2 separate regions of the Homo sapiens genome follow, and region 1 is linked to region 2. Evidence: fine-mapped expression QTL. A gene starts in region 2. The other region holds a variant in brackets. All regions are shown on one strand. Distances are between the middles of the regions.

The links.
Region 1: its variant is fine-mapped to the expression of TNFRSF10B in whole blood (INTERVAL, PIP above 0.99).

What each region holds. Positions count from the first base shown.
Region 1 is chr8:23,103,641-23,113,869 of GRCh38, forward strand. It overlaps TNFRSF10C (TNF receptor superfamily member 10c), which reads left to right. Exons shown (of 5, transcript NM_003841.5): 2 at 8,080-8,185. Among named protein-coding and RNA genes, the nearest start is that of TNFRSF10C, 5.8 kb to the left of the region's middle. RefSeq lists an enhancer at 1-155. The variant C/T (reference allele first, on the strand shown) is at 5,674.
Region 2 is chr8:23,060,896-23,077,119 of GRCh38, forward strand. It overlaps TNFRSF10B (TNF receptor superfamily member 10b), which reads right to left and starts at 8,136. Exons shown (of 9, transcript NM_003842.5): 1 at 7,856-8,136. The coding sequence starts at 7,999. It also overlaps the pseudogene TNFRSF10B-AS1. RefSeq lists enhancers at 7,520-7,779, 8,320-8,369, 8,390-8,559, 9,341-9,635, 9,957-10,456 and 2 more, promoters at 5,515-9,228, 7,996-8,666 and a cis regulatory region at 8,121-8,126.

The DNA.
Region 1 (10,229 bases), 40 kb after region 2:
CCTGAAAGTGGCAGGAAGCCGGAATGTGGCAGGAAGCGGTTAACCAAGGTGCTGCCTTGGTTAATGTCTTCCACTACCACCCGTGTGTCCCCTCTGTATCCCATAGGCAGGACCGGGGCTGGCCCCTTCCTTCAGCATAAACGGTGTAAAGTTGTTGTGAGTTGGCTTTGGAAACTGAGATTGGTAGTAGTGTGAGTGCAAGGACATATTATGTATAAAATATGCAGACTTCTAGGTCTCTTTCAGATTGATTGAGGTTTTTGCTAACAGCCCTTTTTAAGATTCTTTATGTAATACAAAAAAAAGAAAAAAGAAAAAGAAAAGGCCAAAGCAAGGTTACAGAAACCATGAGAGTTTGCATGTTGTCTTTCTACAAATTAATGCTAAATTCAGAAAAGCAGTAACATTTTCACCTCTCAAAAATTACACAACTGACTTTTAAAATAGTTTATAGTGGGTGGACTTACCTGAGGCAGCTAGAAGAATGGCTGTGTCAGGACAGTGGCCCTGAAGAGAGAATGCATGGATGACCAGTGTAGACAAGGCCAGCAACATCAGTTTCACGGTTTTGGGAATGTGAACTCTATGCGTCCCAAAGGAGGCTTTAATCCCTCCATCAGTCTTGCCTTATTAAATGCATTTAAATGTACAATCACTTTGTTAAATTTTGGAGCTAACACAAATCACATTAGATGTTTTATGGCAGTACATTCAGATTGATCTTCTTTTAAACAAGGGTATTGTATTTTACTGCATGGGTAAGCCACATTTTAATTCACTGTTGCCGCCTAGGGGCAGCTGGTTAGATCCCATCCTGACGGCCTTTGCTAATTCCAACAGCATTGTACTAAATACCCTTGTATGTATCGTGTGTCCACATATCCATGCACACCAGCTTATTGGGCAACTCCTTACAAGTTGAATTCTACTTCTCCTTCTGTGGGATAAATGACTTCAGAAGTTTCTTTAAATGTTCACGAATTTTCCTCCAAAAAACCACTGAACCCAGCTTACAGTCACACCTAGTCCACAAATGTGCCTGTGTCCCTACACCTTTGCTACACTTAGCTTTCATTCTTTACTAGTCTAAGATGTAAAACATAACACATCACATTGCTATGTATTTTTGTTTCCTCATGGTATTAGGAATTTTCAAGGATATAGGAGTTTTTTGGTACTGGGAGTAGACCAGGGTATCCAGATGAGACAGCAGGGAAGACTGAATTCTGAGCTGTGCACTTGGAAAACCCTGGTCAGTTGGGGCCAGTCCCTGCCACCCACCATGCCTGTGAATGGAGATAAGGTCTCCATCCTCAGCCTGTCAGGGTGACTTCAGATGAGCCTGGAGCTGAGTTCAGTTCCTGACCCCAGGTCCTGGCTCTGTCAATGCTGGGCTGGTCCAATCTGTGCGCCAGGTCCTTCCACACCATTCCTCTCTCTATCAAAGTAGGAATTGAGAAGTTCCAACGGCTCAGAATCTCGGACTCTCAGGCTGTCAAGGACTCCTGAGATTGAAGGTTGTGAATGGCTGGGCCCTGCCGTGCTCCCCCTCTGGCTCTGTGACTCTGGTGTGGCCCCAGCTCCTGCCTGTAAAGTGAAGAGGAGGTAAAAATCTTCAGCAGCCCTGTGTAAACCTCAGAGGGCTGTGTTACCAGGTGTGGGAGGACAAATCACATCCTCAGGGCTGGTGTCACTCACTCTGGACTGGATCCCCAGGCACCTGTCCTCCATCCAGCAGAGGCTGCCCCTGTTCCTACCTGCACCCTGGTACTTGCTCCCTGAGCTTGGGGCAGAAGCTTCTGAAGACTAGGGTGGAGCACCACGGGGAGGGGCCATGGAGGAACAGAGGAGCCAGACGTCAAGTGAGGACAGCGATGGCACTGCAGGGCCACAGCCTGGTTTACCTGCCATGCTTCCAGTTGTCCTTCTGGTAGGCGCCTGGCCCGGGTTGTAGTTTGAAGAGTGAGCAGGAAATGTCTCCATCCAGGTGGCTGCAGATGGCTACTCACCCAGGCTGTACTGAGAGGCCACAGTCCCAGTTCTGGTCCTCTGTCGTGTATCCAGGAGTGGCAGGGCAGTGAGGCTCTAGCTTCTAGGTCAGGGATGGGGACAGTGGGGACAGTGCCATGCCCCGAGCCTCTGCCGTTGGGCAGCTGGTATCCTGCTTCCAGCCAGAGAATGCACATCTTCATGTAGTGGATTTCCTAACAACCCGGGGAGATGAAGGTAGGTTGTTTTTCCTGTTTTACAAGTGGTAAAATGAGATTCAGGGCTAGAGTTCTCTGAGCAGCTGCTTCTCTGATCTCTGTCCTGCCCTTGGCCTCTGGGAGCTCTTATGGTTCCTCAGCAGAGTTCACAGGGCTCTTGGAGCCTGTCCTTCGGCCTTGAGCTGAGGCCACAACTGCGCGCACTTCATAGGCTTGAGGGGAAAGTGATTCATCCAGGAAGTAAACAGTGAGCCCTTTACTCTGAGAACACCTGTGCCTGGAGTCCGCCGGAGTTTGGGAGGACAAATGAACCCCATGTGAATCCTGTTCCCTGGAGCCCGCAGTGTGGTGGGAGAGGTGACCCAGGGATTATATAACTAATAGGAGGTAGCATGAAGGAGGCCTGAGATCTCACTACCCTTGCCTCCCCCTCCTCCAGAGAGGCTGTGCTGGAGAGAGGCCATGCTGTTGCAGGGCCATAGGATGTGGTACTGTTGGCCTGGAAGATGTGGTTTGATTACAGTCACCATTGAGGGTCAGGGAGGGGAGCGAAGCTCTCCTTTAGATGCCCCCCCACCCGATTTTTTTTTTTTTTTTTTTAGCTGGGCCTGAGAATTTGATTCACCTAAGAGAGGTCCACAGGAGACAAGCACACACATTTATTTAATTCAAGTTTTACCTGGCATGGAAGAACCTGTGAGAGTCAGTTACTTATTTACTGAATTAGACCAAGTAACTCATGAAGAAGCAAGTAACTATGTGAGGAGCTAAAAAGATGAGAGTGGATCCATTCTAACATGGTCTGCACAGTACCCTCTTGGCCTCGACTTCTCATCCTTAAAAATAAGGAAATTGTCAGCTGGGTGCGGTGGCTCACGCCTGTAATCCCAGCACTTCGGGAGGTCAAGGCAGGTGGATCACGAGGTCAGGAGATCGAGACCATCCTGGCTAACACAGTGAAACCCCGTCTCTACTGAAAATACAAAACAATTAGCGGAGTGTGGTGGCGGGTGCCTGTAGTCCCAGCTACTGGAGAGGCTGAGGCAGGAGAATGGTGAGAACCTGGGAAGCAGAGCTTTCAGAAAAAAAAAAAAAGGAGATTGTCCTATGTTTCCCTGGGGACTTTCATCTCCTGCTTTTAGGAAACACAAAAGAGGTCAAAGGATCTTCTTGCACCTGTTGTTTTTCAATAGCCTTTAATTCATAATAGTCAATTGACCAGGGTGGGCAGGGTGCGATGGCTCACACCTGTAGTCCTGCCAAGACAGGCAGATCACTTGAGCCCAGGAGTTCAAGACCAGCCAGGGCAACATAGCAAAACCCGGTCACAACAACAACAACAAAAAACCAAACAAACAGAAAAACAGAAAAACACAGAAAATTATGTCGTGTGAAGGAATCCACACAGAATGCTTACCATCTGATTCCATTTCTCATTAAAATTCGACCAATCTATTCTGACAAAAAGCAGAATTATTGCTGGGGACATAGGAGCAAAGCGGAAGAGAGGATTACATTGAAGAATGAAGAAATTCTGGGGTGTGGTGGACATGTCATTTTCTTATCGTGGTGGTAGTTCCACAATGTATACACACGTCTCAATCTACCAAACTACATGCTTCAAAAATGTACACTTTGTTTCATGCCCATTATACCTCAATGAATCCATTTTTAAAAAACCTTCAATAGAATGTAAACACTTGAGTGTATACTGTATTCCCTATAGCACTTGCACATAGATCATGGAAATAGGTATGCATAAAAAGTCAGTTTATCCAATTAAAATGGAATTCTAAAAGGTAATTAACATTAAAATGTGCAGGGGGAAAAGGAGTAAAAAAATTAGACTAGACAATCATAGCTTAAATGGTAAACTTACAGGTCTATTTCAACTATATCAATTATTGCACTCCCTGTAAATCCACTGAGCACTACAGTTCAATGGTAGAAATGTTTGGAAGGGCTGAGAAAGCAAGACTCAACTATATCTTGTCTATATGAGATGGGCCTTAAAAGGAAGACACAGATGTTGTCTGTTGAAAGTAAATAGATGGAAAAAGATACACCATGCAGAGTGTAAGGCCAAGAAAACTGCCATGGCTATCTCAGTATCAGATGAAGTTGATTTTGTTAGCGGTGGATGAGATCCGAGTTACCCTACGTTGAAGGCGGCGAATCCGTATGCGTCCACAGCACCTTCAGCTCTTCGCCTCCTGAGAAGAAAGAACTGGTTTGAGGGGCATAAGGCAGAAGCAGAGATGGAGGCAAGTTTCAGAGCAGGAGTGAAAGTTTATTAAAAAGCTTTAGAACAGGAAGGAAAGGAAGGAACAGGAAGGAAAGGAAGGAACAGAAAGAAAAGAAGGAAAGTACACTTGGAAGATGGCCAAGCAGGTGACTTGAGAAACAGTACGCAGCCGGACCGCCTGAGTTGGGGTTTTATAGGTTGGCCTACTTCCAGGATCTTGCCTTACTTCTCCCCACTCCTGAAATCTTATTGGGAAGCTGCTGATCAGTTTCAAGTGTTTTCTATGTATTAGGAAACTGCTTTTTTCTGGCATCGGCTGTAACCAGTTATTACTTTAGAGACACAGTTATCAACTACCTGATGGTCGCCCAACACTGCTGGTGTCAGAAGCGGGGACCCCTCTCCTGTCCTGCTCATACCTAACTAGCTGCCTACTGTGACAATTTTAGGACATTGAATATTATGGGAGATGAAAAGGGACCTTTGTAGTTAAAAGGGTTAATTCTTCAAGGAGTATAATAACAACAAATTGTATATGCCTAGTAATACATCTTCAAAACACATGACACAAAAATAGAATTAAAAAGAGATTAACTCAGCTGTTTCTCTGCACTTGCTAGCATGATTAGATGAAAATGCCAGTAAAGTGGCAAGCGATCTGCACACTATCAACCACCTTGATTTAACTGACATTTAAAGAGCAGGAGTGGAACATTCACTGAACACTCATTCCTTTCTATGCTCATGATACTTTCACCAAGATAGACCAGGTTCTGGGCTATAAAACACACAATATGATCTCTAAACTTAATGAAACTAAACTGGAAATCAGTAACAATATCCACAGAGAATTCTAAAATTTTGATATTGAACAACACACTTCTAAAAATCTGTGGTTCAGACAGGAAATCAAAAGGGAAGGTAAGATATTTCAAAGTAAGTAATAATGACAATATAACACATCAAAAGTGGTGCGAAATAGCTAACAGTGCTCAGGGTGAAATATACAGCTTTCAATGTTTGTATTAAAAAACTGGGGGTTAGGGAGATGGGGAGTTACTGCTGAAGGGTATGTAGTTCCTTTCTGGAGTGATAAAAATATTCTAAAATTGATTATAGTGATGATTGCATAGCTATGAGTATATTAAAAACTGCTGAAGTGTGGACTTTAAATGGGTGAATTATATGAATAATCATAATTATTAATTATGTGAATTGTGT[C/T]TCACTAAAGCTGTCAAAAAAAGAAAAAACGTGAAAATTATGGGCCGGGCACGGTGGCTCACATCTGTAATTCCAGCACTTTGGGAGGCCGAGGAGGGTGGATCACGAGGTCAGAAAATCGAGACCATCCTGGCTAACACGGTGAAACCCTGTCTCTACTAAAAATACAAAAAATTAGCCAGGCGTGGTGGCGGGCACCTGTAGTCCCAGTTACTTGGGAGGCTGAGGCAGGAGAATAGCATGAACCTGGGAGGTGGAGCTTGCAGTGAGCCGAGATTGTGCCACTGCACTCCGGCCTGGGAGACAGCGAGACTCCATCTCAAAAAAAAAAAAGAAAAAGAAAAAGAAAATTATGGCCTGAGGAGCTACATTAATCAATCATAAAATATAAGTGTAAATTTAAACCAAACAAAGTAACAGGAAGGAGCATAAATCAAAGAATACAAACCACAGAAAGAACTGAGAAAACCAACTGTGTGCGGTGGCTTACGCCTGTAATCCCAGTACTTTGGGAGGCCCAGGCAGGCAGATCACTTGAGCTCAGGAGTTAAACCACTCTGGGCAACATGGCGAAACCCCAGCTCTACAAAATATGTGAAAATTAGATGGGCGTTGTGGCACACACCTGTCTTTGGGGACTGAGGTGGCAGGACCACTTGAGCCTGGGAGGCAGAGGAGGCAAAGGTTGTAGTGAACCGAGATTACACCACTGCACTCTGCGCTCCAACATGGAGGACAGAGGGAGACCCTGTCTCCAAAAAAAAAAAAAAAAAAAAAAAAAAGACAAAATGAAAAGTTGGTCTTCTGAAAGGATTTTAAAAAACACTAATAAACCCCTCATTAAATGAGAGGGAGTAAGAGTGTGAGAGCAGAGAAAGGAGACGCAGACATCGCCTGAACCTAGAGGGACTCCAACCCGGGAAAGAATGATTTGGGAAAAGTGGGTTAGCTTCACTGTCACCAACTGCTAGTCAGGCTTTGATGTGGAAGAAAGCTACATTTTGTCTTGTTTAGATCCAGGCAGTTGAACTGAGCCCAACATAAGCAGCTTTCATTGTAACCATTTTGGTTTTGCTTAAATTAATTTCCTACTTTAAAACACTCCCAACTTAAAGAAAAGTTACAAAAACTATACAATAAAAACATTTGAAAAAATGGCTGTTGGCATGATGAAAGCTATTATTGAATTCTTTAGTGTGTACTTTCTACAAACAAGGAAATTAACATCAACACATTACCACTATCTATCCGCACTCTATTCCGATTTCTCCAGTTGTCTTCTAGTTGTCATTTATAACATAGAGATCATGGCCAGAATCCCTGAATTGCTGTTTCATCTTTTTTGTCACTCTTTGATATTTAGTGGGAGCAGCTTGACAAGGTCCTTTGTAAAGCAGTAATTAATTACTTAATGTTTGATGCTATATCCTGACTTTCTGTAAGGTTATATATATTATAACCTTCATTTGTAAAGCTGAGTATGTTTAAGTGTGTGTCTGTGTGTATTTGTGTGTGTGTGAGTGAGAGACAGAATTCACCTATTGGTCAATTAAACACTTGGTGAAACTAAATATATTAAATGCTATTTCTGCATGAAGGGCTCATATGTGTGTGGTTTTTTAAAATTCTTATAAAATCTTTTCTTTCCAACCATGGTGGCATGTGCCTCTTATCCACATTTCTTGGGAGACTGAAGCAGGAGGATCACTTCAGGCCAGGAGTTCAAGCCTATAGTAAGATATGATCACACCTGTGAATAGCCACTGCATTCCAGCCTGGGCAACATAGCAAGACTCTGTATCAAAAAAACAAAATAGCTCTTCTTGCTCCCATTATCTGGGGTAAATTTATGTTATAATATGAGAAAAGGATACATAAGTGTTTTTCTTTTTCTTTTCATTTTTTCTTTTTTTTTTTTATTTGAGATGGAGTCTCGCACTGTCACCACATTGGAGTGCAATGGCGCGATCTTGGCTCACTGCAACCTCTGCCTCTCAGGTTCAAGCTATTCTCCTGCCTCAGCCTCCTGAGTAGCTGGGATTACAGGTGTGTGCCACCACACCCAGCTAATTTTTGTATTTTTAGTAGAGACAGGGTTTCACCGTGTTGGCCAGGATGGTCTCGATCTCTTGACCTTGTGATCCACCTGCCTCAGACTTCCACATTGCTGGGATTACAAGCTTGAGCCATCGCGCTTGCCTGTATTTTTTTTTTTTTTTATAGAAAATAGCTGGCCCTAACAGGCCAAGGGACAAACACAGGTATGAAAGAATGAAAGTTTGGAGCTGGAAAAAATGTCCAAGCTCTGATGGGTTTTGTCACTTGGGGTGAAGGGAATGTGAGATGGAGCCTGGGAGGGGTGAGGTCTGGAAGTCACTCACACCCATCACTCCTTTGTCCCCACAGGTCCTAGCTTACTCTGCCACCACTGCCCGGCAGGAGGAAGTTCCCCAGCAGACAGTGGCCCCACAGCAACAGAGGCACAGCTTCAAGGGGGAGGAGTGTCCAGCAGGTGCACTCTTATTTTTAAAAATCAGTTTATTTTTAATTGACAGATAAACATTGTATGTATTTATGATGTACACCATGATGTTTTGAAATATGTACGCATTGTGGAATGGCTAAATCAAGCTAATTCACATACTTAATCATGTATTCGTGGTAAGAACACTTAAAAATCTGCTCAGCAATTTTCAGCTGTATGGATACAGAGCCCTGGGATAAGCCCTCTTTGCCCTTTTTATCTGTGGGTTCTGTAGCCTTCCTTATCTATGGGTTCTGTATCCATGGTTGCAACAAACCACAGATCAAAAATATGCGGAAGAAATAAAAATGATAATACATCAATAAAAGCAGATAAAAAGCAATGCAGTATAGCACTTATTTACATAGCATGTCTATTGCATTAGGTATTACAAGTAATCTAGAGATGATTTAAAGCATATGTGCGTGGGTTTTATGCAATACTATCCCAATTTATATCAGGGACTTGAGTATATGCAGAGTTTGTTCCATGGAATATATTCCCTGTGGATAGAAGGCAGGACTGTACAACACATTGTTTTAATAACTGTAGTCGCCATGTCACACAATACATCTCTTGAATTTATTCTCCCTGTCTAACTGAAATTTTGTATCCTTTGACTAACATCTCCCCATCCCACCATCCAACTCAAGCCCTGGTAATCACCATTCTGCTCTCCACCTCTATGAGACCAACTTTTTCTGATTCCACATATGTGAGATCATGAGGTGTTTGCCTTTCTGTGCCTGGCTTATTTCACTTAGCATAGTATCCTCCAGCTTCATCCATGCTGACACAAATGACAGAACTCCCTTCTTTTTAAAGGCTGAATAGTATTCCATTGTATCTATGTGTCACATTTTCTTTAACTTTTCATCCATCCATGGACACGTAGGTTGATTCCATGTCTTGACCATTGTAAATAATGCTCCAATGCATATGGGAGGGAAGATATCTCTTCAATATACTGACGTCATTTCCTTTGGATGTATACCCAATAGTGGGATTGCTAGATCATATAGTTGTTCTATTTTTTGTTTTTTGAGGAACCTCCATACTGTTTTCCATAATGGCTGTACTAATTTCCATTCCCACCAACAGTGTACCAGCATTCCTTTTTCTCCCCATCATCAACACTTGTTACCTTTTGTCTTTTTGGTAATAGCCATTCTTACAGGTGTGAAGTGATATTTGGCACTTGATGGTTAGTGATGCTGAGCATTTTTTTCATATACTTTTTGGCCACTTCTATGTCTCCTTTTGAGAAGTGTCTATTCAGGTCCCACGCCCATGTATCCATTTTACTTGGATTATTTGATTGTGTGCTATTGAGATGTTTGAGTTCCTGTGTATTTTGGATTTTAACCAAAATCTTGGATCTTTTGAATATTGACCCTCATTCTGTAGGTTGTCTCTTCACTCTGTTCATTGTTTCCTTTGTCATGCAGAACCTTTTTAGTGTAATGTAACCTCATTTGTCTGTTTTTCCTTTTGTTGCCTGTGCTTTTGGGGTCATAGTCAAGAAACCATTGCCCAGACCAACATCATGAAAATTTTCCCCTATGTATTCTTGTGGTAGTTTTACCATTTCAGATCTTATGTTTTAATCTTTAGTCCATTTTGAATTAATTTTTACATATGATGTGAGATAAAGGTCTTATTTCATTCTTCTGCATGTCAATACCTACTTTTCTCAACACCATTTATTGAAGAGCTGTCCTTTCCCCATTTTGTGTTCTTGGTATCTTTCTCACAATCAATCAACTGTAAATGCATTGATTTATACCTGGGTTCACTATTTTGTTCCATCAGTTTATTTACCATTGTTGTGCCATTACCATTCAGTTTTGATTACTATACTTTTGTAACACGTTTTAAAATCAGGTAGTACGATGCCTCCATCTTTGTTCTTTTGTTTGTTTTGCTTAAGATCACTTTGGCTATTTGAGGTCTTTTGTAGTTCCATACAAATCTGGGCGTGGTGGTGCGTCGCCTATAATCCCAGCTACTCGGGAGGCTGAGGCAGAAAAAT
Region 2 (16,224 bases):
GGATTTTTTCCTAATTTCTTTTTTTGAATTGTTCATTGGTAGTGTATAGAAATGCAATTGACTTTTCCAGTTGATTTTGTATTCCGCTTCTTTGATGAATTCATTTTAGTACTACTAAATAAAAATTAAAAACACAGTTTAGATATACCCCACGGCAATTACCCATAACCATGTAGCCAAAACTTAAGACATCCTGATATCCCTGAAACATTAGCTATAATCATAAAAAATCCCACAAAATATAAGTTTTACACCTTCATCATGACATAATATGGTTCAGTGAAGTTAAATCAAGCAGCTATAGAAAAATCAGCTTAAACAGCTCTGATTGCCTTTAAAAAGAATATAAATTTATAAGTCAATCATGAAATTGTCAAAATACATCCTCCTTTATAGCCTGTACTATACCTGCTGTAAGGCAAGTTTCTTACCACTTGGTTTGAAATCTCCCAGATTGCAATCTGTACTGTCTTTTACTGAACAACAATAAATTTCAAAATTTTAAAAATTTAATATTATTTTATTTTTGGCAGTTTAATTTTTTGTGAAATCTTTTGGATTTTTTACCAGTAAGATCATATCATCTGAAAACACAGATTATTTTACTTTTTCCTTTACAGTCCAGATGCTCTTATTTCTTTTTCTTGCCTGTTTTGGCTAGAACTTCCAGTACTATGCTGAGTGGCAAAGGTGGGTAGATATCCTTATGTTGTTCTTAATCTTAAAGGAAAAGCTTTCCGTCTTTCAACACTGAGTATGATGTTAGCTGTGGGGTTTTCTTACATGGCTTTTATGATGTTGTGGAAGTTTTCTTCTATTCTTAGTTTGCTGGGTGTTTTCATCATGAAAGGGCTTTGAATTTTATCAGAGGCTTTCCCTGTATCAACTCAGATGATCATGTGTCTTTTTCCCCCTTCATTCTATTAATGCAATGTATTACATTGTTCAGTTTTCATTTGTTCAAACATTCTTGCATTCCGGAAATAAATCCAACTTGGTCATGGTGTATAATCCATCTAAGGTACTGTTGAATTCTCTCTGATAGTATTTTGTTGAAGATTTTTGCATCAGTTAGGGATACTGGGATATAGCTTTATTTTCTTGTAATATCTTTATCTGCTTGGGTATCAGAGCAATGCTGGCCTTACAGAAAGAGTCAAGAAAGGTTCCCTTCTCTTCAAGTTTTTGAAAGAGTTTGAGAAGTAGTGGTATTAGCTCTTCATTAAAAGCTTGTTAGAATTCACTAGTGAATTCTGTCAGTTTAATTAATAGTATTGAAGAATCAATGTTGGTTTTGTGGATTTTCTCTATGGTTTTTCTTTTTTCTTTTTCTTTCTTTCTTTGAGACAGAGTCTCACTCTGTTGCCCAGGCTGGAGTGCAGTGATGTGATCTTGGCTCACTGCAACCTACATCTCCGGGGCTCAAGTGATCCTCCCACCTCAGCCTCCCGAGTAACTGGGATCACAGGTGTGCTCCCCCGGGCCAGGCTGCTTTTTATATTTTTTGTAGAGACAGGGTTTTGCCATATCCAGGCTGGTCTCAAACTCCTGGCTTCAAGCAATCCTCCTGTCTTGGCCTCGCAAAGTGCTGGGATTATAGGCGTGAGCCATCACATCCGGCCTCTACTGTTTTTCTATTCTCTGTTTTATTTATTTCTCTTCTAATAATTATTTCCTTTATAATGCTAACTCTAGGTTTGGTTCATTCTTTTTCTAATTCCTACATTTGTAAACTTAGCTCGTTGATTTAAGATCCTTCTTCTTTTTTAATTAAACCATTTCTGGCTATAAATATCATAGATGGAATCAGATACTATATATGCTTTTCTGTCTGGTTTCTTTAACTCAGCATAATTATTTTGAAATTCGGTCATATTTTCATATGCATCAGTACTCCATTCCTTTTCATTACTGAGTTGTATGGCAGAATTAATATGGTAATATTATAAAATGTAGGAGACTTGAAATAATACAGATTGATTCATCTCCACTACTCATTCTTTCTGCTATAGTTGTCTCAGGCATGTTCATATGTTACAAACCCTACAAAGTGTTATATTACTTGATAGTGAATATTTTCAAGAAATTAAGAGGAAATAATCATTCTTTATATGTGCATTCATATTTCTATTCCTGATGATCTTCCTTCTTTCCTTAAGATCCATGTTCCCAGCCAGGCAAGGTGGCTCATGCCTGTAATCCCAGCACTTTGGGAGGCCAAGGCGGTGGATCTCCTGAGGTCAGTAGTTTGAGACTGGCCTGGCCAACATGGTGAAACCCGGTCTCTACTAAAAATACAAAAATTAGCTGGGTGTGGTGGCAAGCGCCTGTAATCCCAGCTGTTCAGGAGGCTGAGGCAGGAGAATCGCTTGAACCCAGGAGGCAGAGGTTGCAGTGAGCCGAGATTGCGCCATTGCACTCCAGCCTGGGCAGCAACAGTGAAACTGTCTCAAAAAAAAAAAAAAAAATCCATGTTTCCATTTCATTTCATCTCTATTCAGATTGAAATCTTTTAGCATTTTGTGTACTGCAGGTCTATGAGCAATGACGTGCCCATACTGTCTCCAATAGCACATTCAGGTTCCTAATTCTTAAAGCCATTTATGCCCATTTACTCTTTCTTATTTGGTAATGACCTCACCCAAGTCTCAGATTAGAAACACTAGAATCCACCACAAACCTCTTTCCTCTTCTTACCAAACCCATTGCATCACCGGCCTGCGTTATCATCATTTCCCTCAGATCTGCCTCAGCTGCCACTTGCCTCCTTCACGATAATGCAACCTGACCCTCACCCTAACCACTAGGACCCATCCCGAATGCTGTCCAGGCCACACCTGAGTGCACCCACCTAGTCCACTCTCCACTGGGTGAACAATGATCTTTAATGGGTGGATCTGATGAGGGATGTCCCCGGGGAAAACTTGACAATGGCCTTGGTGACTCTGGACTTGGGTGATCCTCCGTACTCTATTCAGATCCTCTGTTCTGTCCTCAGCCTGCCTGCCACACTCCCCACCTCTCACGTTTAACACACTCTATGAGCAGGCTGAGGACACAACGTCTGGGTTAGTGCAGCTTCCTAGAATCCACGTTACTCATTCATTCATTCATGGAAGGCATGTAGGCGCCTGGCGACCGCATATGCAAGGAGCCGTGGAGTATCGGGAACATGGCACGGCCCTTCCTTTCCTTAGCACAGTTTCCATTCACAGGAGCTGAGGCACAGCCATCATTAACCCCAAAGTCCATGAACTTGCAAAGAGTCTGGAGGGGCTGCCCAGGCAGAGGTGACAAATGCCATCGGTGGCAGGGACAGTAGTGGACATAGAGGAAAGAGTGCACACAGACAGAATCCCAGACAGACAGGAATCCAGTGTAATGGGGGAGGGGAGTAAAAACAAGAGAGGTACTGCTGAATTAATATTGTAATATGATTACAAAATGTAGGAGAGTTGAAATAATATAGATCCATTCATCACCATTCACTCTTTCTGCTGTGCAGGACGAGGCTGTGCCGTCCGTGGGCCTCTCTGATTGAGGGAGAATGGGCGTGTGGCCAGAGATGCACAGCTGTGTTGGGCCACAGAAATGGGCTCATGGGGGTGTCCATGGGCATGGTTAAGAGAGAGAAGGAAAACAAGAAGAAGGGAGGTCAGGGGTTTGGCTTATTTCAGTTCTTGTCCCATTGAATTCTAGGGACCCTGCCTCCTCCCGGACATGAGCCATTGGCGGGGTTTCCCTGTCTTGTGACTCACCCACCTGTGATTCAGGCTCCTTGCTTTACACCAAGTTTGAGCATAAAACCTGCTAATATTTCTCGTCAAAAATTAACCCGAGTAACCTCTTCTTTCCTCTCTGAGTCACCCACATCCTTAAAACTGCCCAGGATAATCACAGTTCCTGCATAGGTTGTTGTGTGAACTGAAAGTGTTAATATGTATGGAAAGTGCTTAAAACACAGAACTTTAAACACATGCTCTGATTAGTACGATCATTACCCTCAATGTTGATTTTAAGCAAACCATATTATCCTGGCCAAACTACCATGACCTGGAGCCTTGGGACTGCACAGCCTCCCTCTGTCAGTCAAATATGGAGGGATGACATCTCTGGAGCCAGCACAGCCACTCTGGAGGTGGGGGAGGTGACAGTGGTGGGACCTCATGCTTCCTGATAGTTATTTAGGTCCCTGCTGTCACCTGCTCCACCAGACTGTGGGCTCCAGGGAGTAGTCAGTATTCACACAGGGCTCATTTGTCCTTCCCCAACCCAGGCACAGATTTTCCCAGAGTAAAGGGTTCCTCCTCTACCTGATGAATGAATCACTCCTGTCCCCGCCGCCAAGCACATGCAGTGAGACTAGCTGTGGCCTCAGCTCACTGCGTAAGGACAGCCTCCAGCTACAGCAGGGGCAGAGGACCCTGTAGAGCTCTGTAGTCTCTGTTGAGAACCACAGGCAGGAACTCCCAGAGGCCAAGTGCAGGGCAGAGACTGGGAGAAGCAGCTGCCTGGAGGACTCTGGATCCTTGCAGAAGACATGTCCAGTGTCTGCTGAGACTGACTCTAGGTGCCTGAGAAGAAGCCACCCAGGGAAGGAGAGACTAGATTGTGGACCACTCAGGGCTGGGAGATCTGCATGTTCCCCTTCCCACAGTGGACAGAACGCATGCCAGGGTGCTGGCGAGTTACCATCAGAAGTCAACCACTATAACTTTAGTAGTTAACTAAATGAGCCCCTGAATAAGGCAACTGAACACAAGGTATATAGTTATATGTAGATAAAAGCTAGTATCAGAGGAGCAAACTGATCCTCAGTTTTCTGTGACCAGAATAATGCCCAATAGACTTTGAAAGAACACAGTGATGTTCGGTACCCAAGAAAGCAAAATTCACAATGTCAAGCAATAAGAAATTACTATGCATGAAAAAAAAAGTCCCTATGGGCAGGAAAAAAAATGTAATCAACAGAAACAGTGGCCGTAATAACAGATATAATGGTGTTGATAGATTAAATAACTTAAAACAGGTCATCTAAAGCTTACAAATATACTCAAGAATATTTAAAAAACAGAAAAACAAAAAACACCACCACCAAAATCATAGGTTGCGCACGGTGGCTCAGGCCTGTAATCCCAATACTTTGGGAGGACAAGGTGGGAGGATTCCTTGAGCGCAGGAGTTTGAGACCAGCCTGGGCAACATGGTGAAACCCCGTCTCTACTAAAAATACAAAAATTAGCCAGGTGTGGTTGCAAGTGCCTGTGGTCCCAGCTACTTGGGAGGCCGAGGTGGGAGGATCACTTGAGCCCAAGAGGTTGAGGCTGCAGTGAACTCTGACTGTGCCACTGCACTCCAGCCTGGGTGACAGAGTAAGACCCTGTCTCAAAAAAGAAAAACACAAAGATGACCAGGAAATAGATGGAAGATATTAAAAATGCCAAAAGAGAACTTCTAAAGTTCAAAAAATATATATCTGATATACAGTAGATGAGATTAACAGCAGGTTAGATTCTGCAGAAGCAGATCAATGAACTTGAAGAGCCCTCACAGGGAAATGTCCAAAGTGAAACATAGAAAATGATGGGGGAAAAAAAAGAACAGATACTAAGTTAGCTCTGATACAAAATCTAACATTCTAACGTAAATATAATAAGATCTCAGTCACCAGAAGAGACAGAGTATTTGAAGAAATAATGGCTGAAAATCTTCCAAGTAGAACATAAACTCGGCTGGGCGTGGTGGCTCACCCCTGTAATCCCAGCATTTTGGGAGGCTGAGGCGGGCAGATCACGAGCCAGACCATCCTGGCTAACACGGTGAAACCCCGTCTCTACTAAAAATACAAAAAGTTCGCTGGGCGTGGTGGTGCATGCCTGTAGTCCCAGCTACACGGGATGCTGAGGCAGGAGAATGGCGTGAACCCAGGAGGCAGAGGTTGCAGTGAGCTGAGATCCCACCACTGCACTCCAGCCTAGGCGACAGAGGCAAGACTCCATCTCAAAACAAACAAACAAACAAACAAAAACATAAACTCTAAAACCCCAAATCCAAGAAATTCAACATAACTCTGTTGTGGCTTTCTTTCTTTCTTTTTTTTGAGTTGGAGTCTTGCTCTTGTCTCCCAGGCTGGAGTGCAGTGGCGCCATCTCTGCTCACTGCAACTTCTGCCTCCCAGGTTCAAGTGATTCTCCTGCCTCAACCTCCCAAGTAGCTGGGATTGCAGGTGCCCACCACCACACCCAGCTAATTTTGTATTTTTAGTAGAGACGGGGTTTCACCATGTTGGTCAGGCTGGTCTCGAATCCCTGACCTCATGTGATCTGCCCGCCTCGGCCTCCCAAAGTGCTGGGATTACAGGCATGAGCTACCAGACCCGGCTGTTGTGGCTTTCTTTACAGAAAAGTCTCCAAGGAGAACATAAACTCTAAAACCCCAAATCCAAGAAATTCAACACAACCCAGTTGTGGCTTTCTTTACAGAAAAATCTTCCAAGTAGAAAGAACATGAAAGTCTAAAGCCAAAAATCCAAAAAATTCTTTATAGAGATAAAAAAAAAACCCCACAACAGAGCAAACAAACCAAATCACTGCAAACCAGTGCTAAGAAAAATCTTTAAAAGCAGCCAGAGACCAAAGATCCACCACCCAAAGAGAGGCAAGATGCCCTGGGGACCTAGGCCCACAGAAACCACAGCAGGAGGGGGAGGCAGAGGCCCCTGTACACTCTCCTCACTAGGACAGTTAGGTCCTCCCTCCACTCAGAGGTGAGACCAAGGACATACTGTGGTGTGGGGCGGAAACAGTGAAAACATGAGGTGTGTAACAATATCCCATGAAACTCCAATGCTTCACACTGACATTCTTCTAGGTCAACACCAGCATTCTCTTGACCTTCCTTTCACTGTTCCTCCTCTCCCTTCCAGCCCCTCTGTACAGTCTTGAGTTAGGTCTAGGCCCACACACTTCCCCACTCTGAGCTGCGGTCTCTTCCTCTGTAAAATGTGATGATTCAGAACCTCTCCTGGCCCCAAGCGCAGTTCCAGGCGCTGAGCACACCATGCTGTTCCCTACAAAGCCGACTCTTTGTCCCTTCCCCATTATCACGGATACTTGCCAAGAGGTGGCAAGAAAGGCTCTTCCCAGGCCAAAATGCAGCTGCTATTATCAAGCAGGTCAGGCCCCAAGTGCCACAACTCCCTTCTCCTAAATCTCGTTTTCCCAAGGAACCCCAAACAATGGCATTGGCGATGAGCGGCCCCGCACGCGTAGGGGCGCAGCCGCTAAGGAGGGGAAGGGGCCTCTCCAGCTGCGCCCGCGACGACTCCCGCGCACGGAACGGAACCACTGGGCCGCAGCGACCACAGGGGAGTTCTTCGCCGGCCGCAGGTTCAAAGCGATCTGCAATGAGCGCCTTTAGGAATTCATTCGAAGGCGCAAAAGAAAAAGAAATTAAGGCAGGAACTGAGCGAGGAAGGAAGGGAGGGAAAGAAAGGAAGAAAGAGAAAAAGAGAAAGAAACAGAAAGTAAGGAAAGAAAACAAAATCAAAGTCCGACGACCTCTCCGTGGCTTCACGCAGCTTACTCGGGAATTCCCTCCTTGTCGCCCTCCCCCACTGGATTCGGGAATTTACACCAAGTGGAGCGCGCGCTCTGTTCCCTGGCGGCCCAGGTCGCTCCTGCCCAACCCGGGGACCCATCTCTTCCCCCGACTCCGACGACTGGTGCGTCTTGCCCGGACATGCCCGGCCGCAGGCGACCCGGGCCACGCACCCCCGCCGTGTCCCCCTCTCTCCCTGCCCTCTCCAGGCGCCAGGCACGCTCTTCCCCAGCCAGGGACCGCGGCGGGGACTCACCAACAGCAGGACCGCGGCGACAACGAGCACAAGGGTCTTGGGGACCCGGGGCCCAGGCCTGGCTCCCCGCGCCTCCCTGGGTCCTGGGCCGTGCCTTTTCCGGGCCCCCGAAGCGGCCGGGGCGTTCTGTCCCCGTTGTTCCATGGCGGTAGGGAACGCTCTTATAGTCTCTCAGGCCCGTGGGTTTCAGCCCTTAAAGTAGATCGGGCATCGTCGGTGTATTTTGTGGGCGCAGAGATTGCGGGGTTCTCCGGCCGCGTGCTGATTTATGTGTCCAGGCTGACTTGGGGCGGCGCGGCTGTACTTTCACTGCCTCCGGGCAGGCGTCATTCGGGGCGGGGCGAATCAGATCCAATGTGCAACTGCAAATTCCACCACAGGTTGGTGACAATAAATAAGAGTCTCGTCAACGCAATCCTCCGCAAGCGCGTCCAAGTGGGGAGGGGAGGGGAAGGGACCGGAACTAACCTTCGCCCTGGCGGCTGCGCCCCGGGCTGTGGTTTGTTTCTGGGTCCTGTCCGCGCCAGGACAGGCACCGAAACTTGGGGGAAATGAGTTGAGGGAGGCACTTGGGGAGTTGACGCCTCCCGGGGTCGCGCGCTTGGCTGTGAACAGGGTCTTGAGGTTCAGAGTCCGCTTTCCAGGCGCGTCTTGATCTTCTCCCCTTCCCAGGGGCACCTGCCCCTTCTGTTCTCTCCTTCTCTCTTCTTTCCTTTTTTCTTTCGTTTTCTTTCGTTCTTTCGTCTTCTTTCCGTCCTTCCTGCTTTCTCTTTCCTTCCTTTCTCTCTTTCTCTTTCCTCCCTCCCTCCCCCTCCCCCTACCTCCCTTCCTTGTGGTTTATTTTTTGAGACAGTCTCTCTGTGGCTCAGATTGGTGAGCGGTGGTGTGATCCCGGCTCACTGCAACTTCCGTCTCCCAGGTTCAAGCGATACTCCCACCTCAGCCTCCCATGTAGCTGGGACTACAGGCCTGCACCACCACGCCTGGCTAATTTTTGTATTTTTAGTAGACACAGGGGTTCACTATGTTGGCCAAAAGACCATCGAACCCAGCTTACACTCACACCTAGTCCACAAATGTGCCTGTGTCCCTGCACCCTTGCTACACTTAGCTTTCATTTGTCACTAGTCTAGGAAATAAAACATGATACATCACATTGTTATGTATTTTCATTCCTTCATGGTACTGTGTCCGGAATTGGTGGGTTCTTGGTCTCACTGCCTTCAAGAATGAAGCCTCGGACCCTCGCGGTGAGTGTTACAGTTCTTAAAGGCGGCGTGTCTGGAGTTTGTTCCTTCTGATGTTCGGATGTGTTCGGAGTTTCTTCCTTCTGGTGGGTTCGTGGTCTCACTGGCTCAGGAGTGAAGCTGCAGACCTTCCCAGTGAGTGTTACAGCTCTTAAGGCAGTGGGTCTGGAGTTGTTCTTTCCTCCTGGTGGGCTCGTGGTCTCGCTGGCTTCAAGAGTGAAGCTGCAGACCTTCAAGGTGAGTGTTACAGCTCATAAAGGCAGTGTGGACCCAAAGAGTGAGCAGTAGCAAGATTTATTGCAGAGGGAAAGAAGGAAGCTTCCACAGTGTTACCACTGCTGGCTCTGGCAGCCTGCTTTTATTCTCTTATCTGGCCCCACCCACACCCTGCTGATTGGTAGAGCGGAGTGGTCTGTTTTGACAGGGCGCTGATTGGTGGTTTACAATCCCTGAGCTAGACACAAATGTTCTCCACTTCCCCACCAGATTAGCTAGATACAGAGTGTGGACACAAAGGTTCTCCAAGGCCCCACCAGACTAGCTAGATACAGAGTGTCAATTGGTGCATTCACAAACCCTGAGCTAGACACACGGTGCTGATTGGTGTGTTTACAAAACTTGAGCTAGATACACAGTGCCAATTGGTGTATTTACAATCCCTTAGCTAAACATAAAGGTTCTCCACGTCCCCACCAGACTCAGGAGCCCAGGTGTCGTCACCCAGTGGATCCCGCACCGGGGTTGCAGGTGGAGCTGCCTGCCAGTCCCGCGCCGTGCTCCCGCGCCGTGCGCCCGCACTCCTCAGCCCTTGGGTGGTCGATGGGACTGGGCGCCCTGGAGCAGGGGGAGGTGCTCGTCGGGGAGGCTCCGGCTGCACAGGAGCCCACGGAGGGGGTGAGAGGCTCAGGCATGGCGGTCCCGAGCCCTGCCCGTCGGGAAGGCAGCTAAGGCCCGGCGAGAAATCAAGCGCAGCGCCAGTGGGCCGGCACTGCTGGGGGACCCAGTACACCCTCCGCAGCCGCTGGCCCGGGTGCTAAACCCCTCATTGCCCGGGGCCGGCAGGGCCGGCCGGCTGCTCCGAGTGCAGGGCCCGCCGAGCCCACGCCCACCCGGAACTCCAGCTGGCCCGCAAGTGCCGCGCGCGCAGCCCCGGTTCCCGCTCGCGCCTCTCCCTCCACACCTCCGTGCAAGCTGAGGGAGCGGGCTCCAGCCTTGGCCAGCCCAGAAAAGGGCTCCCACAGTGCAGCGGTGGGCTGAAGGGCTCCTCAAGTGCCGCCAAAGTGGGAGCCCAGGCAGAGGAGGCGCCGAGAGCGAGCGAGGGCTGTTGAGGACTGCCAGCAAGCTGTCACCTCTCAGTACTACGGATTTTCAAGAATACAGGAGTTTTTGGTACTGGGAGTAGATGACTGGGGGGATCCAGGCAAGACTACAGGGGAGGGCGGCAGAGAAGACTTAATTCCCAGCTGTGTACTTGGAAAACCGTGCTCAGCTGGGGCCAGTCCCTGCCAACCGCCATGCCTGTTAATGGAAATAAGGTCTCCATCCTCAGGCTGTCAGGGTGACTTCAGATGAGCCTGGAGCTGAGCTCAGTTCCGGACCCCAGGTCCTGGCTCTGTCAATGCCGGACTGGTCCAATCTCTATGCCAGGTCCTTCCAACCCCATCCCTCTCTTTATCAAAGTAGGAATCAAGAAGATCCGAAGGCTCAGGCTCTCAGGTTGTTAGAGAGTACTGAAATTGGAGGCTGTGGATGGCTGGGCCCTGCCGTGCTCCCGGTCCAGCTCTGACTCTGGTATGGCCCCAGCTCCTTCCTGTAAAATGAGGGGATAAAAATCTTCAGCAGCCCTGTGTAAACTTCTGCAGGCTCTGTTAACAGGTCTAGGAGGACAAATTGCAGGGCTGGTGTCAGTCACTCTAGACTCTGGATCCCCAGGGCACATGTCCTCCACTCAGCAGAGGCTGCACCTTCTCCTACCTGTACCTCAGTACCAGCTCCCTGAGCTTGAGGCAGAAATTTCTGAAGACTGGGGTGGAGCGCCATGCGGAGGGGCCGTAGAGGAACAGACGAGCCAGAATTCAAATGAGGACGGTGATGGCACTGCAGGGCCACAGCCTGGTTTACCTGCCACTCTTCCAATTGTCTTTCTGTTGGGCACCCAGCCGGTGCCCCAGTTTGAAGAGTGAGCAGGAAAGGTCTCAATCCGTGTGGCCACAGATGGCTGTTCACAGCCTCTACTGAGAGACCACAGTCCCAGTTCCGGTTCTCTGTCCTGCATCCAGAAGTGGCAGGGCAGCGAGGCTCTAGCTTCCAGGTTGGGGATGGGGACAGTGGAGACAGTGCCATGCCCTGAGCCTGTGCTGTTGGGCAGCTGGTGTCCTGCTCCCAGCCAGAGACTGCACATCTTCATGTAGTGGATTTTCCTAACAACCTGGGGACATGAGAGTAGGTTGTTTTCCCTGTTTTACAAGTGGCAAAACTGAGATTCAGGAGCAGTGTCTCCAGCATTTTTGGCCTCACCTTCTGTATAATAGCAGCCATATTTGCACCTCTACAGGGCTAGAGTTCTCTGAGCAGCTGCTTCTCTATTCTCTGTCCTGCACTTGGCCTCTGGGAGCTCGTATGGTTCCTCAGCAGAGTCCACAGGGCCCTCCCTGTGCTACAGCCTGGAGCCTGTCAGGCGGTGAGCTGAAGCCACGACTGCACTCACCTCATGGGTTTGCGGGGAGAATGATTCACCCAGGAAGCAGACAGTGAGCCCTTTACTCTGGGAACACCTGTGCCTGGAGTCTGCTGAAGGCAGGGAGGACAAATGAACCCCATGTGAATCCTACTCCCTGGAGCCTACAGTGTGGTGGGAGAGGTGACACCAGGGGTCATATAACTAATAGGAGGTAGCATGAGGGAGGCCTGAGATCTCACCACCCTTGCCTCCCCCTCCTCCAGAGAGGCTGTGCTGGAGGGAGGCCATGCCATTGCAAGGCCATAGGATGTGGTATTGTTTGCCTGGAAGATGTGGTTTGATTACAGCCACCATTGAGGGTCATGGAGGCAAGCTAAGCTCCCTTTAAGGGTATTTTTTTTTTGGCTGGGCCTGAGAATTAAGTTGACATAAGACAGGTCCACAGGAGAAAAGCACACAAATTAATACAATGCAAGTTTTACATGGCACAGAAAAAGCAGTGAGAGTCAGTTACTTATATACTGAATTAGACCAAGTAACTTGGGAAGAAGCAAGTAAATATGTGGAGGCTAAAAAGATGAGTTATTCTATTCTTTTTTTTTTAATATCTGCTCCTTTAAGGAATAAAAAAGACAAGCTTACCTTTTAAAATATATTTTACATATGTATACAATCTAAATTTATTTTTCTCTCTTTATCCCTGAATACTTTATTATTTTTTTTTTAATTTTTTGGAGACAGAGTCTTGCTGTGTCGCCCAGTCTGGAGTGCAGTGGCATGATCTTAGCTCACTGCAAGCTCCGCCTCCTGGGTTCACGCCATTCTCCTGCCTCAGCCTCCCAAGTAGCTGGGACTACAGGTGCCCGCCACCACACCCGGCTAAATTTTGTATTTTTAGTAGAGACAGGGTTTCACCATGTTAGCCAGGCTGGTCTCTATCTCCTGACCTTGTGATCCACCTGCCTCGGCCTCCCAAAGTGCTGGGATTACAGGCGTGAGCCACCACGCCCGGCCTACTTTATTATTTTATTTTTACTTTAAGTTCTGAAATACATGCGCAGAATGTGCAAGTTCGTTACACAAGTATACTTTTGCCAGCGATGCACCTGCTGTTTTTCAATAGCCTTTAATTCATAATAGTCAATGGGCCAGGGTAGGCAGGGTGCAATGGCTCACACCTGTAGTCCTGCCAAGGCGGGCAGATCACTTGAGCCCAGGAGTTCAAGACCAGCCTGGGAAACATAGCAAAACCCATCTCTACAAACAATAACAACAACAAAACCCACAGAAAATTAGCCTGGTGCAGTGGCCTGCACCTGTAGTCCCAGCTGTTTAGGAGGCTGATGTGGGAGGATCACCTGAGCCTGGAAGGTTGAGGCTGTAGTGAGCCGTGTTCACACCACCGCACTCCAGCCTGGGAGACAGAGTGAGACCCCGTCTCAAAAAAAAAATTCTTTTAGTAATGATTATGCTATTCAGAGTGTGCGCTGAAATACAGCACTTCCCATAAGTCAGGCTCTATTCAGATCCCTTCATACAAATTCACACATTTAATTCTGACAGCAACCTGACTGTGCCGGAACTATAATTAAGTTGGTTCTCTTACGTGAGACACAGATCAACTCAGTAACTTGCTGAAGGTCACACAGCTATTCCTGGGGTGGGGGGCTGGGGGATGGGTGAGCCAACCTCAGGGGAGCAGCACCCACTGCCCAACTGGCTTCTGCTGCCTTTCCCAAGGGAGAATTTGCTGCTCACCTCATTCTGGGTCACTGCTGGGAGGCCTCTGAGAGCTCATTTAATGCCACTTCCTGTTTTCAGGAGAGAGAAACGTGAAGTTTAGAGAGGAAGGGAAGTGACTTCCCCGGACTCCTGCAGCTCTTTAGTGGCTGGCCCTGGTCTTGTACAGGGATAAAAAGAAACTCCACAAAACTCAGAAGTAGATCCCAGGCCACAGACTGAGAGAACAAGTCTGAGTTGATGTCTGGTCTTCTGAGTGATTGCTCAGTTCAGGGTCAACTGGCAGCTTTAAGGGTGTGTGTGCCCTGCAGAGGAAAGAGGAGCCTGCTTGGCTTGAGGGAGGGTGAGGGCCACACTGGGCTTTGCAACCACCTACCTATTGCATCACCAGTGGGGGATGTGCATGACCAGGAAACCCCCAGTTAATGACTCATCTGGGGAGAAGCCTGGATCTGCAGAGCCTTGCAGGAGAGGACCTGAGCAAGCCTCCACCCTCCTCCCTTCTCATTCTCCTTCTCTCTCCACCATGCCTCTGGCATGCTGCGCTCTCTCTCTCTCTCTCTCTCTCACACACACACACTCACTCACACACACCAGGAAAAGTTCAAGTCTGACAAAATTCTATGGACTGACACAGCCACACATCTCTGGCCACACACCCCTTCTCCCTCAATCAGAGGCCCGCATCCTGCACAGCCTCGTCCCAACCTCACTTGTTTTTACTCCCCTCCCCCATTACTTTGACTTACTATTTGTCTGGGATTCTGTCTGTGTGGACTTTCCCCTCTATGTCCACTAATGTCTCTGCCACTTATGGTACTTGTCACCTCTGCCTGAGCAGCCCCTCCAGACTCTTCACAAGTTCATGGACTTTGGGGTTAATGATGGCTGTGCCTCAGCTCCTGTGAATGGAAACTGTGCTAAGGAAAGGAAGGGCCATGCTGTGTTCCCGATACTCCACGGCTCCTTGTATGTGTGGTCGCCAGACGCCTATATTTCTTCCATGAGTGAATGAATGAGTAACGTGGATTCTAGGAAGCTGCACTAATGCAGATGTTGCGTTCTCAGCCTGCTCATAGAGTGTGTTAAACGTGAGAGGTGGGGAGTGTGGCAGGCAGGCTGAGGACAGAACAGAGGATCTGAATAGCATGCAGAGGATCACCCACATCCTGAGTCACCAGGACCATTGTCAAGTTTTCACCGGAGACATCGCCCATCAGATCAGCACTTCAGAGATCATTGTTTGCCCAATGCAGAGTGGATTAGGTGGGTGACCTCAGACATGGCCTGGGCAGCATTTGGGATGGGTCCTAGTGGTTAGGGTGAGGGTCAGGTTGCATTATCCTGAAGGAGGCAAGTGGCAGCTGAGGCGGATCTGAGGGAAATGATGATGATAATGCAGGCCGGTGATGCAATAGGTTTGGTAAGAAGAGGAAAGAAGTTCAAGGTGGATTCTGGTTTTCATAATCTGATATTTGGCTGAGATCATTACCAAATAAGAAGGAGCAAATGGGCATAAAGTGGCTTTAAGAATTAGCAATGTGAATATGATTTTGGAGACGCCACGGACACTTCATTGCTAGTAGACCTGCAGGACACAAAATGCTTCAGGCAGAAGAGATCTGACACCAAATGGAAACCTGGATCTTAAGGAAGAAAGGAAGGTCACCAGAAATATAAAGTTGGGGAAAATGTAAAGGATTATTACTTCTTCTTAGTTTCTTGAAAATATGTATTATCAATGATGATAACATTGCTGTGAGGTTCGTAAAGTATGCATAGTTAAGGCTTAGGAATACTGGGTGGTGATGAATGGACACATCTTGTTGCGAGTCTCTTACACTTTACATTAATATCACACAATTAATTCAGCAACACAACTCAGCCATGAAAAGGCAGTATTACTGCACATGGCCACAGGGATGGTTTTCAAAATGATCATGTCATGTGAAGGAATCCAAGCAGAATGCATACCGTCTGATTCCACTTCTTATTAAAATGCAACTAATCTAATCTATTGTGACAAAAAGCAGAAGAATCATTGCTGGGGACATAGGAGCAAAGCAGAAGAGAGGATTACACTGAAGAATGAACACATTCTGGGGGGTGGTAGACATGTCATTATCTTATTGTGGTGATAGTTTCGTAGTGTATACATACATCTCAATCTACCAAACTACACATTTTAAAAATGTACACTTTGTTTTATATTCATTATACCTCAATAAATTCTTTTTTTTTTTTTTTGTTTGAGATGGAGTCTCACTCTGTCGCCCAGGCTGGAGTGCAGTGGCGCGATCTCGGCTCACTGCAAGCTCCGCCTCCTGGGTTCATGCCATTTTCCTGCCTCACCCTCCTGAGTAGCTGGACTACAGGCGCCCGCCACCATGCCCGGCATTTTTTTTTTTTTTGTATTTTTAGTAGAGACGGGGTTTCATCAGGTTAGCCAGGATGGTCTGGATCTCCTGACCTCGTGATCTGCCCGCCTCAGCCTCCCAAAGTGCTGGGATTACAGGCATGAGCCACCGAGCCCAGCCAATAAATTCATTTTTTAAAAAACTTCAAATAGAATACAAACACTTGAGTGTATACTGTATTCCCTATAGCACTTGCACATAGATCAGGAAATATGTATACATTAAAAGTCAGTATCCAGTTGGGTGCAGTAACTCACGCCTGTAATCCCAGCACTTTAGAAGGCT